Linked DNA regions of Homo sapiens. The protein of the gene in region 1 interacts with the protein of each later gene in a pairwise test. Each region holds a gene or a part of one and is shown on either strand. Other genes may lie near its edges.

What was found. Proteins that work in one complex are often made in the same cells at the same time.
Region 2: the proteins of CKMT1B (region 1) and RXRG interact in binary tests that used the Homo sapiens proteins (3 or more experiments, as listed by UniProt).

Annotation. Positions count from the first base shown.
Region 1 is NC_000015.10:43,589,297-43,597,030, reverse strand, and holds the start of CKMT1B (creatine kinase U-type, mitochondrial precursor), read right to left. Parts: upstream 3,005-7,734; 5' UTR 2,813-3,004; coding exon 2,664-2,812; intron 2,337-2,663; exon of another isoform or gene 2,153-2,336; coding exon of another isoform or gene 2,060-2,152; coding exon 1,861-2,059; intron 1,658-1,860; coding exon 1,562-1,657; intron 1,176-1,561; coding exon 954-1,175; exon of another isoform or gene 953-953; intron 825-952; coding exon 739-824; intron 624-738; coding exon 500-623; intron 1-499. UniProt on the Homo sapiens protein: Reversibly catalyzes the transfer of phosphate between ATP and various phosphogens (e.g. creatine phosphate).
Region 2 is NC_000001.11:165,442,119-165,449,647, reverse strand, and holds the start of RXRG (retinoic acid receptor RXR-gamma), read left to right. Parts: upstream 1-4,521; 5' UTR 4,522-4,754; coding exon 4,755-4,803; intron 4,804-7,529. UniProt on the Homo sapiens protein: Receptor for retinoic acid. Retinoic acid receptors bind as heterodimers to their target response elements in response to their ligands, all-trans or 9-cis retinoic acid, and regulate gene expression in various biological processes.

The DNA.
Region 1 (7,734 bases):
CAGTCTCTCTCCGAACTCTCAACTTAAAGCCTAGACCCGATACTTTAACAAGAATGATAGAATCCAGAGTCAAGGCCTACCTTGTCTCAGAACTGGGTGGTTATATTAGAGTCATGAACACAGCAACCTCTCCCCGCCAACATCAATCTAAGCTCGAATGTTTTCCTTATCTGCACACCTCACCATCCCACTGCACACATCCCAGGCACTGACGTGCCATCTCATTTATTCCTTCTTTGCACTCTCTGTCAACAGCCTTGTTCACTTCCTAAGATTCCTGACACTCTTTCTTTTCCTAATCTTAGTGTGACCACATGTCCTGGTTTTCCCAGTATGGTCCCAGCTGGTTTACACCTTTAGTCCTGGAGTGAGTCCTAGATAGTCCTTTTTACTATAAGACATGTCCTGGGTTGGTTGGTAAATTACATAATCTATTTATGCTACTCTTTGGTTTTCCTTATGTCCTCCCACCTAGCTCCCCTACATAGTCTTCTCTAACCTCTTTGAGGCCTCGGCAGAATCTTTCAAACACTCTCTTCATGTTACCACCCTTCTCCATGGAGATCACCCGTGTATGATCCTCCTCATTCACCCAGATCAGGAAGCTCTTCTCATTGTTGTGCCTGAGGGCCGGAGAGGGACAGTGATCAAGAGGCAAGGCAAGAATTGGGAGAGATAGAGGGAAAAAAAGCATTTATGAGGGCATGAAGACAAAAGAGGTAATGAGCAGCTTCATACCAAATTCCACGAGCATCTGGCCAGTCTCGAGCCATTCCTGCTGCAGTCAGCAACGGGGACACAGGCTTATCAAACAGAAAGTGGTCCTGGGAAGAGTAACGGGACTTGGGTTAAGAATCTTCATGGTGGCCCCTGGGCCTTTCAGAGCCCATGTCTCATCTGGCCCAGCCTTCCCCATCTGCTCCCACCAACCAGCACCCTCTTAAGGCCCTCACATCAATAAGCTGCTGCTGTTCAGCCTCTGTCATCTCACTGAGCCTATAGTAACGTCCAGCCAGGTCACCCTTCAGGCCACTCAGTGCATCCACCACAACACGTTCCACCTCTCGTCGCTCTGCTCGAGTGCAAGCTGGAGGCAGACTGAGTCCTCGGATGCTTCGGCCAGTTCTGACTCTAGAGGACAATACATACCTCTCATCAAAGTAGCCAGAACGGATCTGGGAGATAAGGGAAATGAATGTAAGTCACAGAAACACGGTGGGAACTGAGGGCCCCTGGGAAAGGAGAGACCTTCCTTAGGCATTAGAGGACTCTTTGTGCATTCTTCCTGCATGCATTGGAAGAAGAGGCCCTTTGGGAAAGCACTGGAATTGAAGGGGGCATTGCAGACCTTTCCCCAAACCACCCACCTTGGGTCATGGTCATTCTTATCTATCCTTCCATCTCCATATATGCTGCCCCTTAAGATATGATTCTTTCCTTACATTAAGATTAAAAGCTCAGCTGTATAATGACCATGAGTCAGGAAATAAGGTGAAGGGGTTGGAGATACAGAGTGTTGTACACAGGCAATGCAAATCAGAAGTGGGATATTTGAACTCACTTTACTGGCATCTAGATCCGTGGTGTGCTTCATTGTCCGGGGGTCATATCCATTGTGTCGCTCTTGGATCACAGGGTCAAACAGGTCAGCAAATACCTAAGGGGAGTTAAGAGGGAGAGATGGTTAAGGAGAGGGAATCCCTCCCCAGACTTCAATTGTGCATTGATTTCACTGGTTCAGAAAACTTAAGTATGGGGGGCTCAGAGTCTTGGGGGAAAGTGAGAGGTCTTTAGGGGAAAGGAGCTGGGATTACTGGGAAGATGAATTGGATCATCAGGGAGACTCTGGGGACCCCCTACCTCATAGGTCTCCTCATCTCCAGCCACCATGCCCACAGTCTTGATGAAGGGGTGGCCAGGGTTGTCCACGCCAGTCTGGATACACTGATCTAGCGTCCAACCAGTGGGTGTGGTCTTGTCGCAGAGCCGTGCATAGACTGCTGGGGTCAGGTGACTGGCCATGCAGTTGTTGTGCTTTCGGAGGTCTGGGTACTCAGCGCTGGGGAGGGGGTACCCAGTAACCATGGAGGGAGGGCACAGACGCCTAGACCTAGTGCAGTTACCTGGGAGCTGTCCAGTTGGCCATGTCTGGCTTTGCTCCGCGGGAGGAGGGGGAATTAGAAAGAGGGTAAACCTTGGTAATCTCTTTAGGGACTTTCAGAGTCTATGCTTTCCTAATAGTTCTAGTTGCCTCTGGCTGGCCAGCTCAGTTTCTTCAGATCTGCTCAGTTCTTTCCTCCCATGACACAACACTACGGATGGAGGAGGGGAAAAGCCTAAGGAGAGGAATTGAGGAAATGAGGGAAGGAGATGGAGGGGAGCGAAAAGGATAGTTCCTGGCTTTACAATTAGGGATTTGGGCAGCCAGTGCAGCTAGAACTCGTAGGGCCAGAGCTGGTCTTGGCAGGTCCCCAGGAATGTTCTTGCTTTATGGTTTTGGCCCCCACCCCCACCCCACTGAGGTCTGCAGACTGCACAGCCCTCCAGCTCCAGGGCCTTCGTGATTATAGCCCTTCTCTGTTGCCCGGATTCTCACTTCTACCCGCACCTTCGTTCCCATCACCTCCTGCCCCCGCCTCCTCCCGCGCCTCAGGCACTGTTACCTCGGGGGATACAGCCTCCGTCGTTCACTGGCAGCTCGTACAGGTTCCGGTCGGAGCAGAAACCCAGCGGCTAGAGACCCCGCTCCGGCCAAAGCCAGGAGCCTGAGTCCCGGGCGGGCGGACAGCAGACGGGAGAAGGGACCAGCCATGGCTTGAGGTCTGGCTACGGGATCCTGGAGTAGGCGCTGGCGCAAGATAAGATCCGGAACAGGGAGGGAGGATGCAACCGGATAGACCGAGGGCCGGAGCTAGGTCCGAGGCTGCAGCCGAAATGGGGGTCGGATTGGAGGCTGGAGCCGGAATGGGAGCCGGTGCCAATCAGACTGCAGGAGAGGCGCAATGAGCTAGTGGCAGGCGGGCGGGCGGAGGAGAGGGAGGCCCCAGCCGCAGTCTCCAGGGGTGGGGCTCCCCCAGGCCCCGCCTTCCCGCCTGCCACCGCGCTAGGTGCGCGAGGGCAGGGGTGGGCAGCACCCGCCAGGTAATTAGCGGGACCTGAGACTCGCGCGTCTAAAGCCGGGGATGTAGCCCCCTCCCGCCCCGGGGATGTGGCCGCCCAGATTTCAGCACCAAGTGGAGGACAGCACCCACGTGGACTAGCTGAACCCAACACCCTTCCCCCACACCCCTCGGTTTAAGCTGAAACTCGATCCGTCTACCCTGTGGGTGTGCAAGGGTGACACTGCCCAACCTTTCCTCTGCTTTCGGCCTGCCCCAGCCACCTCTTCGGTCTCCCGGGGGCAGCCGCGGGGAAACCGCGGAATAAACACAGATACCAGAGGAGGATATGGAGAAAGCACAGGGTTAGAGGCAGGCACTGGGAAAGACACCCACTGGCTCAAGGTCACCTTTTCCTTAGAACCAGGAAGAGGAGCAAGGTGCTTCCTTGCCACCTCTGTGCACGCCTTACAAAGTTGAGAAAGGACTCCCTGGGAGGAACCAAGGAAATATTAATTCTTATGCCATCTGTGCTGTGTCCTCCACCTCCATTCTGCACCCAAGTCTGAAGCCCTGTTATTTCCTGCCTCTGCTTCTCATGATCCCCCACTTTTTGTTTTCCTTTTGTCTCTCCCACTTTCCTCCACGTCCCCTACCTCACCTTTGATCTTTTACTTCTCTGCGTCTTTTCCAGGCTCAGATGTGTTTGCTGCTCACAGGATGCCCTCTGCGTTTTCTCGGCAAGCTTGCCCACCTGTTGGTGGTGCTGGGTGTGGGGGTGGGCAGGGAATCGTTAGTTTCCTCCTCCTCCTCTCCCTTGGCTTCTCTCTCCGTAGTTCCTAGTTCCTGTGCTGGAGGAGAAGGTAAAGTGAGGTGAAGGGTGTGGTGAGATGACTGGGTGTGGGACTGGAACAGGCAGGCACAGGTCTCCAGACACCACATGTGTTTCCTCTCTTGTCTCCCTAATGCTGTTTAATCCAGAGAGTAAAGGCGAGTGGTGTACAAAGGCATGAGGTCGTCAGGGAATCTCTGCCTTCCTCGTGGTCCCCTCTGCTGCTCTCTCTCTCCTCGTGAAACACATATTCAGATTTGAGAGGGCTTTGTTTCCCAGCTCCAGGTATGATTTGACCTTTGTCCTGGTAGCAAGGAGAATGAATGCTAGAGTTGAAATAGAGATGAGGGGCTTCAGCGTGGAGGGTCAGTTAAGGTGGAGTAGCACCGTGGCATTAGTCCCTTCCCTCTGCTATCCTGGTGTACCCACAAGACAGATACTTGGAAATCTTAACAGAGAGTATTTGGGAAAGAGAATTCCCTTTACATAGAAAATTCCCCCATATTACTCTCATTCCCTTCATTCTCCTTAGGCCTTCCTTGTGTCCTTTTATTCTACCTTTGTCATTTGTGGGTATTCTTAGAAGTGTCCACTTCTCTCTTGGGTCCATCCCTTCTTCTTCTGGTAAGACATCAATTATTAGAGAACAGAGTTATGCAGCTGTAGTGTGGAAAATGTTACCTGTGTTGTGGGGCCTCTTTACCTAGGTTGAAAAGTAGCCATGAGTAAATAAATATAATTTCTTAGAATAGCGTGTATTTATCCAGATAAATAGGGAGATAATCTTCCAGAGCAGTAGGGTTGCTATTTGATTGAGAGGGTGTTACTAAGGAATAGGAAGTGGGAAGAGATAATTACCGAAGGAGAAATAAGACAGCCAGAGGAGTAGAGAAATTACCCAAGTTTAGAGAGTAGCTTCCCAAATGTGAACAATAATTCCACTGAGAAAACACATGTACTTATGCACTTTTCTTATCCCTTGTGTGCCTTTTACAAGCACATAATATATTAATGCTCATTTAAAAAATTATTTTGCAGCATATGGAAGTAATCAATATATGGTATTGTTATATGGTATTTCATTTATTTAATAAGAATTATTGTTGTCAATAGTATTTAATATTTTTAAAGCACTTTACAATTACAAGGAACTTTTATATGTATTATTTCATTGAGTTGAATTGGATTGTTCCAATGATTACTGGGGACAGAGTCTACATTTTCATGGGGATAGTAAGGGGAGTTAAATACCTGGAAGATGCTGTAATAGCTAGTTTGAAGGGCTAGAGTGGTGGAGGGGGTATGAGCCTGAGCATGAACTAGGGAGGCATCTATTCCTCTTAGAATAATCTATTCAAGCCATTAGAATCATTTCTATGTCCATTCAGGAGGCCTTGTGGGGTCAGTACAATGAGGCACGACTGGAAAAGTGGCAAGACCCCTAATATTGCAGAGAAGGAAAAGGGAACAACTGTCTTGACCAGGGAAACCCAAGTGAAGATGCGAGGATAATAAGAGCAATAACATATACAATACAAAATGCTTTCATATTATCAGTACCTTTAAGTGAGGTGTTTTGTTGTTGTTGTTTTTTGAGACAGGGCCTCGCTCTGTCACCCAGGTTGGAATGTAGTGAGGTGATCTTGGCTCACTGCAAACTCCATCTCCCAGGCTCAAGTGATCCTCCCGCCTCAGCCTCCTAAGTAGCTGGGAGCACAGGCATACGCCACCACACCTGGCTAGCTTTTGCATTTCTTGTAGAGACAGAGTTTCATCATGTTGACCAGGCTGGTCTTGAACTCCTTGCACTCCAGCGATCTGCCCGCCTCGGCCACCCAACGTACTGGGATTGTAGGCGCGAGCCACTACAATTGGCCTTAATTAGGTTTTTGGGGGGTTTTTTTGGGTTCTTTTTTTTTTTTTGAGAAGGAGTCTGGCTTTCTCACCAGGCTGGGGTGCAGTGGCGCCATTTCGGCTCACTGCAGTCTCCACCTCCCGGGTTCAAACGATTCTCCTGCCTCAGCCTCCCGAGTAGCTGGGATTACAGGTGCGCACCACCACACTCGGCTAATTTCTGTATATTCAGTAGAGACGGGGTTTCACCATGTTGGCCAGGATGATCTCGACCTCCTGACCTAGTGATCCGCCTAACTTGGCCTCCGAAAGTGCTGGGATTACAGGCGTGAGCCACCGAGCCCAGCCCTAGGTTTTTAATCCTATTTTTATGGATGAGAAAAATAAAGGCTCAGAGAAATTAAGTGAGTCGCTCAAGGCTGCACAGCTATTAGAGGTAAGGCCAGGATTCAAATCCAGCTTTGTCTGGAGCATAGAGAAAAAGCAGGCTGTGGAGATAGGAATCAATTTGTCTAGAGTTCCAGGTCCATCCACTTTCTTGCCTCCTCTGTAAATGTCTCTCTGTTCCTTCCCTTAACTTTCTTATCTGCTTCTCTCCTTGTCTCTTTTTTGTCTCCAGTCTCCCTATCAGTCCTCTTTACATCTGTTAAAATTTTCAACCTTTATTTATTGGATCTGTACATATATGAGACCCTGTTTTGTCTCATAAGACAAAGGGAAGACCTGGTTTTTGCTCTGAAGGAACAGCAATGGCACAAACTCTGCCTCTTCCTCTTTCTCAGCATGAGGCTTCCCACCCACCCCGTCGTCTCATGAAACGTCTCTGTCTAGACCACGCTTCTGGACTTTGGCGACACACTAAGAAATCAAAGGAAGGGAGCATCAAGTTGCATTCCCTCCCAGAGCCACTAGGGGTCACGCTCCTCCGCGCAGAAGCGCCGGCCAACGCAGCCTGACTCTGTTACCGGTGCGCGCCCTTCGCTGATTGGTGGAACCGCAAAGAAGTCGCGCTTTGATTGGGCCGCTGTCAGGTGTCGCTGCCTGCAGGTTCGGCTGCGCGAGCGGAGGGAGGCGGGTGAGTGAAGGCCGGGGGCGGTGGGGGAGTGGCTGGGGCTGGGGGCGGTATCGGACCGGGTGGGCGCGGTAGAGTGGGCTTGGTGGGTTCCCAGGGCTGGGGTTCGTTCCGGGTGGGCTCCGCTTTGGGAAGAGGCCCAGCGGAGGGGCCTTAGTGTCAGCGTAGGGAGAGTGAGGCGGCGAAGGCGGGGGCGGGCAAAGGCTAGTGGAGTCGGGATGCGAGGGCGGTATTCGTGACCCGGAGCTGTGCGAGGAGAGTACCGAGGAGGGGGTCGGCGGGAGAGGAGATAGGTATGTGGGGGTCTGCGTGAGGAAGAGGGGGTCCTGTGGGAGGATGGAGGAGCGGAGTCGTACAGGGGAGAGGATCAAGGTGGAAGGGATCTGCGCCAGGAGGGGTGGGGCTGGAGTCCAGGAGGAAGGGGGTAGCTTGAGGAATGGGTTGCGGCTGAGAGAAGACAGCCTGGAGGGAGGGGTGATGTGAGGAAAGAATGGATGGCAGGTCGTCATTGTGGGGGGTCACTGAGGGGTCAATATAAAGATGTTACCAAGTATGATGACTCGTGCGAGAGGGTGAAGGAGTTTAATACTGGGCAATCAGTGAGTGCGAGGATTAGTTGGATTAATGGAATTAGTTGACCAATGATGCGGGGTGGGATGGGGAGGCTGCAGTCAGTATTGGGGCAAGAGTCATAGCAAGTTGGGGAAAGAAGGCGAAACGAAGCAGCTGATACTGAGAACAGGGAGAGGAGCACAGTTGATCAGAGTCGGAATGAGGAGTGTGTCTGAAGAATTAAAAATTGCATTAAGAAGGAAGTGAGGCGTCCACTGTTCAAGGTGGGCAGAAAATAGTGTTGGTGGCCTGAGGAGTTTTTCTGT
Region 2 (7,529 bases), on another chromosome or scaffold:
CAGACGTAAAGCTATATCCTTTGATTACCAGGGTGAATATTAGATATTATTGGCCGAATTTGTGTCAAACAGCCAAACATACTAGTCAAAATCCATGCTCTTTCCACTTATTCAAAGGCACTAATGGCTTTAGTAAAAGTAGAACATATTATTTAAGAGGACTAGTTAACTAGCCTTGACAAGAAGTAGGCCAAGAATTCTTGTGAATGAATTAGCTAATTCCTACTGTAGACTTTGAGCATTTGGTCTTTCACTTGACATCCTAATGAGAATTCAGTAACAGCTGGAGACACAGTTGTGACTGAAGTCAGTGGAGCTGTTTGGGAAGGGCTTATGTTAGAAATACCAGCCACTTAGGATAACGTTGTTATACCAATAATGGTCTTAGGGAAGACACAATGGTGCCAAGAAAAAAAAAAGTGGGTTAAAAAGAAAAAACCACATTCATATTTGTTGATCTTTAGGCAGAGCTTATGGTTTGTTATGGGGTATTAAGCCATATGGAAGGTATCATAAGAAAAGCATACTGGGGTACCGTTTGGTATATTGTTTTTGATGTATTTGACTATGTCAAGCATTTTTGATACAGAAATATTTGTTGAGCACCTACTGTGTGTTTTAGCACTTAGGTGAGAAAACAAAGAGACATAATACATTATCACTATATTTGAAGAGTTAACAATCATGTTATGAAGATAAGACATATTCAAAGGAAAGATAAATAACCATTCCTTGCCATTTCACTGGGGATGCCACAAGGCCATACATACTAAGTGTCACCTGAACACACTGGACAATAAGTTTTATCAGACCTAGGTTAGGGAGACATCTTTTTGGATAAGTGTTTTCATGGTGGGAAATGAGCTGGAACTTGAATGATAGGTAAGAATTTTAGTGATGAGAAAAAGTAAATGGGCATGAACAATGAACTACGTGTTAGTCCTTTTAGTGTTGTTATAAAGAAATACCTGAGGCTGGGTAATTTATAGAGAGAAAAGGTTTAATTGGCTGACAGTTCTGCAAGCTGTTAAAAAAAAGCATGGTGTCAGTGTCTGTTCAGCTCCTGGTGAAGCCCATGAGGCTTTCAATCATGGTGGAAGGCAAAGGGAGAGCTGGTGTGTCACATGGTGAGAGAGGGGTCAAGAGAGTGGAGGGGGAGGTCCCAAACTCTTAAACAACCAGATCCCCTGAGAGCTAACTGAGCAAGAACTCACGCATCACCAAAAGGATGGCACTAAGACATTCATGAGGGATCCACCCCATGATCCAATACCTCCCACTAGGCTCCACCTCCACCATTAGGGATCACATTTCAACATGAGATTTGGAGAGGAAAAACATCCAAACTATATCAAACCGGAAGTTGGAATGAACATACCGTACCCCTACAGTGGGCAAAACAGCCAGATCAGAAGGAACTCTCAGAGAAAGGGAGGAAAGAAAATCAGGAAAATATTAATTCTTTGCATTTGTTTTACAAAGCCATTGTATAGAACTTCGCAGTGTAAAAATGAGCACGTGCCCAACTCTCAACACATCTGATCCACAAAATCAAAACTAAATCCAGAAACCTTAGTGAGGCTGGCAGCATGGATGTTTTTCCCAGAGAGTGTGTATCCCAAGCCTTGTGATTACTGCCCCAAAGCACTTTCCTCTACATAGAGCTCACATGATAGGCCGAGACACCCCACAAATGGTGAGCCTTTTCCATGCCAGGTTAGGATTTGGTTTTTCTTCTGTGAGGAAAAGAAATAGACAATGTACTGAACTTAGAAAAAGGTGAAGAAAGAGTCTATCTGTTGGTGGCTTAACCAACAGATCATCTTGACAATGACCTTGGACAAGTCTGTAGACTGTGATTTTTAAAGAATGGTTTTTGAGTACTTGAGTACTTGGAAAAACCCTTGAAACATGGGTTCACACACACACAAAAAAACAGTTTAAGTAACTCATTTCCTTCTCTGACATGCGTACAATAGAAAACTGTAGATTGTAAGACACTTGCTTCAGATACCACTATGGAGAAAATGGACAATTATGGAATGGGTGATGCATTAGTCTGCGTTCAGTTTTAAAGCTGAAGATGATATTGGAACCCATGTAGCTCTGCTCCATCATTTTACAAATGAGAAAAAGGAGAGGAGCCATAAAGTGACTTGCTTAAGGTTACATCCTCTTCCTCTTTGACCTCCTCCTCCTCCCCATCATTTGCCTCAAATTAGATTACATGTATCGAGCATTTAGTATTTATCTGGCGTATTTCAAGTGCTTAACATGTATTGACTCATTTAATCCTCATGGTAACCCTATAAGGTAACTGAGGCTCAGGGAGATTTACTCATTTGCCAGTATCATGAGGCTGTAAGCAGCGGAACAGGGATTTGTACCCAGCAATGTTGGCTTGTGAGTTGGTGAGTTGGTGCTTTTACTATACATATAGCCTTTCAAGGCCATATAACTAGTGAGTAGCAGAGCAAAGTGTCTAAGGCACTAATGAATGGACTTTTTAGTGATATAAGATGTTGTCTTTGCTATGTCTATGTCAACATTTTTATCAATGAGTCGAATAAGATATGAAAAAGCAGTTCATCAGATTTTCAGAAGTCATGAAATAAGGGTATGAATAAGAAATATTTTGGACAACAGAAGCAGGATCCTAAAAGATTTGGGATGATGAATGAAGCCAAAAAGTTTTAACTTCAGAGGAATATAGGAAGCATTTCATGTAGGTCCCAAAACCAATTGCCCAAGGATGGGATGAAGAATATGCATAAGAGAACACAACTTAGGGGAGGTAGGGGTGGGGAGATTTTTATCGAGTTAGTTCTACATGAATTAACATGCAGAGCTGCCCACCTAATGCAAGTGAGCAAATGGTCCTCCTGTATTCTATATTACTTATGTCCACTGGACTCTCATCCCAGCAACAGTCAAGGCAGCTCTGGGCTCTCCAAAGCTCTTTACAGTGAAGGCCTGGATATTTCTTCCTCCTTTGTGACATGCTTTTGCTTTGATTCCCCATTTTGGCCTCCTCCTTTGTCATCATGACTTTGTTCCTGACTCTGGTCTTTTATTCTACGTTTTTGTTTTGGCTTCTCCTAGCATTTGAATCTTGATTTTTTACTCTGGGACCCTGATTTGACTTACCTCTCTGGCTCTCTATGTCTTATGCTGCATCAGGAGAAAATCTCTTATCTTTTTTCCAGCCCAACAGAGCTCAGCCCATGAAACGGACCTTCAATGGGTATGTTGACAGCACCCCATCACCGTGCCAACACATATACCATGAGGAAAAGGTTTGGACCATATCTGGAGTATTGCATCCAAGTCTGGCCAACCCCCTTCCTCACTGTGAGGGTATCTATGTAAACTGAAGTACATTATTAGAAAAAGGATAGGTTGGGAATAGACATGAACCCTTGGTGATACATAGAATTACTGAAAGAGCCAGAGATGCCTAGGGAAAGGGGGATTATGGGCACAGCAGATCAATCTCAGGATTTGCAGAGGATCCCACTGTGAAAGACTTTTTTGTCTTTCAGGCTTCTCTTGTGTGGCCCCTGGGAGCAGTCTAGCACCTGTGGGCAGAAGCTGTAGGGAAAAGGAGCAGATTTTATCTCTATAAGAAACTTTCTTGTGGTGAAAACTATCTAGAAATGGAATGAGAAAGTGGTGAGCTCCCCATTATTGGAGGTGTTCAAGTATAGGCTGAGCGGTGACTTGTCACGAAAACTGTATGACAGACCCAAACATCAACGGGGTGCTTAGATTCTTTGATCTCGGGTCAGTTCCACACAAGACAGGCTCTGTGTTAGTGAGGACCCAGTGGTGTTTTTGAACAGGCGGCAGGATAACAATGGTATATAAAATAAATGCAGAGAAAGACCTCCACATCAAGCCAACCCCTCCTCCCTACCTGTAAGTTTTCCACCTGAGTGAGCTCTGGCTCCAGCTGCACTTGTCAAACTCCCATTGTTAGAGCACAGATAAATGCTTCCGGCCACCCAAGCAGGAGAGGCCCACCTCAACTTAAGGGCTACTCTATTTTAGTTTTCCGTAGCTGGAGATTGAGTATCACGCTTTTCTAATCTTGTGCTTCTGAAAGGGCCCTGTTCTCTCTTGAACCCCACCCCCTCCTCCTTTCACAGATCAAATACCAAGTACATTGGACAGATAGAAGTTCGAATGAGAAAATGCATTTTAATAAAATCCCATTGATTTTTGTGGATGTAAGTCAAGGAACAGGCACCTAAAGAGTCTTCCATCCCCTGCCGTCTCCCGCCTCTCTCCTGACCTACACCGGGCGGTCATACATCGATTGGCTTCCTAGATAATAGATCGTGCCACCCGGTAGGGACCTCTGGGGACGCGCCGGGAGCTGGAAGAGTCGCACGCAGCAGCCCAACCCTGAGTTAATCAAACTAGCAACAGGATCTCAAGCAGCAGCGACGGCGGTGGCAAGAGTAGCGGTGACGGCGGCGGCGGCGGCGGCGGCAGCATTATGCGTGATTACTGACAGGCACCAGCTGCTGCCGCCACAGCCGTCTCAAACGCACTATGTGGACTCTCCGATCTAGAGGCAGATTCCTGACTAATCCCAGAGGGCTGGCCCAGCCTGTGCTCCCCGGGCTGCTAGGAAGCGATGACCACTCTTGTTAGCCCAAGTTGAAGAAAGCCGGGCTGTGCCTGGGAGCCGAGAGAGGCGGTAATATTTAGAAGCTGCACAGGAGAGGAACATGAACTGACGAGTAAACATGTATGGAAATTATTCTCACTTCATGAAGTTTCCCGCAGGCTATGGAGGTAAGTATCTCCCTTGGGCTTCACTGCGTGGACCTGTATGAGAGACTGAGAAGAAATTGGGAAATACGAATGACTGGATTAGTATTGAATTAAAAGGAGAACATATATGTTTATATGCATATATAGTGTGTATATAGCGTTTCAGCGTGTGTGTGCACGCGTGCATGAGAGAGGAGAGGAGGAAAGAATGGTCTGTAGGTGAGGATACGTTTGCATATCAGAATGAGGATACGGGGATATTCTAAGGAGAGAGTAAACCAACATGCTTGAGAATGTGTCTGAGACAAAGATAGAATAAGAGCATTGTTATAACCCAGTGTGTTTGTGCGGGTGTGAAAAGTGGAAGAGTTAACGGGGAATTACTATGATGTTCCTATTAGCCAACTTGTAATGAGAAAAAATGTGATTAAAAAGGTTTTGCCTATCTTGAGGGTTCCTGGGATACTTTGTAACAAGGGCATGATTGTTTTACTCAAAAGCAGATTTCCCTTTAATTGGATTTTTAAAAAGAAAACATAGTGCTTTAATTTGCTACTGTGTTTTCCTTCCCCTGTTTTCTTTCCTTTGATTTGCTAATAGCCTCTTCTCTCCTCCCCTGCTGCTGCCCCCAATTCTACTGCAAGAGTTGCTGCAATCACTTCCACTCTGGGGGTAGAGATCTGGGGATGGGGGGTTGGGGCTCTTAGAGAATTGGCAAACTGAAGATTCAAGTCACCGTGCCAGGCAGGGCAGCCCAGTCACACTTCACAGAAGCTTCCGGAGACTAGGTCCTCAGGCTGCCTTAACGCCCAAGCACATCCGTCCCAAGGATCCCTTGATTTAGTGACAGAAACAGTACAGCCGCCCAGCTCTGAGTAAATGGAAGCAACAGCTGACCAACTGGCCTGTCGCTTGTCAGTTGGAGGCATGCAGCTTATGTTGCTGGGAGCCAAAGAAAGATTCTGGCAGGCAAGACAGCAGAAATTCTTATAAGGTTTTGAAAATTGAAAAGTCCCTGCTCTCCAGACTTCCTCCGTGGACCAATTCATCTGAAGGCTTGGGACTAAAGCTTGCCTAACTTGGCTGGGCAGAACCCCCTGGGAGGCATGGTGACACACTGCAAGGTAGAAGTGATCTCTGTCACCAGGAGGTGTTAGACCTGGGAGTTTGCACATTCATTCAGGGTAGTTTTTATGAGGCAGGCATGGTGTTGGGCACTGGGAATACAAATATGAATGAGACACAGTCTCTGCCCTTTGGGACTGGGGCAGGCTTGTTACACAGGCACATTATAATACTGCATGATGTGTGTAATAGCAAACGTAGGTTGTACTTGGACTTGGGGTGAGGGCCATGGAAATGTTCCCGAGGTGATGTTCAAGTTCTTTGGGCCAGTCTGATGACAGAGTGAGAGCGGTGGCCAATGCTGTGACCTGGGCATTTGATCTCTAGTCTATGGTTGGGCTCCAGATGTGAAAAGCCTCCTCAATTCCCACCTCAGTCCCATTCAGAGCTGAGAATTGCTTTTTCCTTTACATCTTAGTTCATTTGTAAGAGGTGCATGCTCATTTTCAGCCAGATTCGTGGGCCCCCCAAGGTCTGTGAGACTGTGGCTTCATTAATGCCAAAGAGACCCTTGGAGACAGTTGGGGTGAATAAAAGGGTTGAAGCTAGAAGGATTTAGGGAGAGAACTAAAGTAAGAGCCAGAGAAAGAAGATCTAGTTAAAATTCCATGGGGGCTGGAATCTTGGAATGTTAGCATCCTAAGGACCTGAAACAGCATCTTAGGCTCTCATCTTATAGATGTGTAAACTGAGGCTCAAAAGAAGGCAGGGACTAGTCCAAATTTATATGGGGCTGAGCTGCAGAACACTTCCAGAAAAGCCCTTACTCAAATTTATAATATTGTTGCTTTAATATAGTGAAAAGAGCACCAGGAGGAAGAGGAGGCAGGAAGAGGTAGTGTGCTGAGTTTGGTTCCCAATTTTTCACCTAGTAGCTGTGTGACCTTAGGCAAGCTAGTGAACCTCTCTGAGCCTTAGCACCTTTCTCTCTAAAATGGGATTTATAATCTCATCCTTAGAGTATTGTGAAAATTAAATGAGTTAGCATGTGAAAAACAGCTGCTATAGTGTTGTCCATATATTTGCTACCTAATACAATATTTTCTTCCCCTCTATTTTACTCAGAGACTAACATGCAAAATAGTTAAAAATCAGACATTATTGTAAAATAATAAATAAGGAATCTGGGAAAATAAAATTAAATCCACAAAGACCCTCATATTTTGCTGGCATAGATTTTCATAATTGTGGGGGCTCTGATATTTAGCGTAATTAGATTTCAGATAGAAGTAAACACAATGGTTCAGCTATGGAAGGAAATAGTTCAGTATAGTATAGGGAACTTGAGGGGAAAGGGTCATGTAGGTTGTCTACATGTCTCCTGTAAAGCTACTTTTCTTTGTCATTCTTGAGGGAGGAGAAGAATTATTTTGTTTAGTTCTGTTGAGGTTTTCCATTTTGTTGGCATGTGCCAGTTAAGAGGAGGCCTAAATGCTGAGCCAAAGGACTCTGCCCCCGTCTGCAGGGAGGTCTGTTTGAGAACTTTCTGTGATGAGGGAGAGGGACAGAGGACTCACAAGCAGGCACAGGGGAAAGCAGGATTAGAGTGGACGTCACCTTTGGCCTCTAACCTCCCCTGCCACAGTGCAGCAAGTTGCACGGCACTTATTAAAATACTTGGT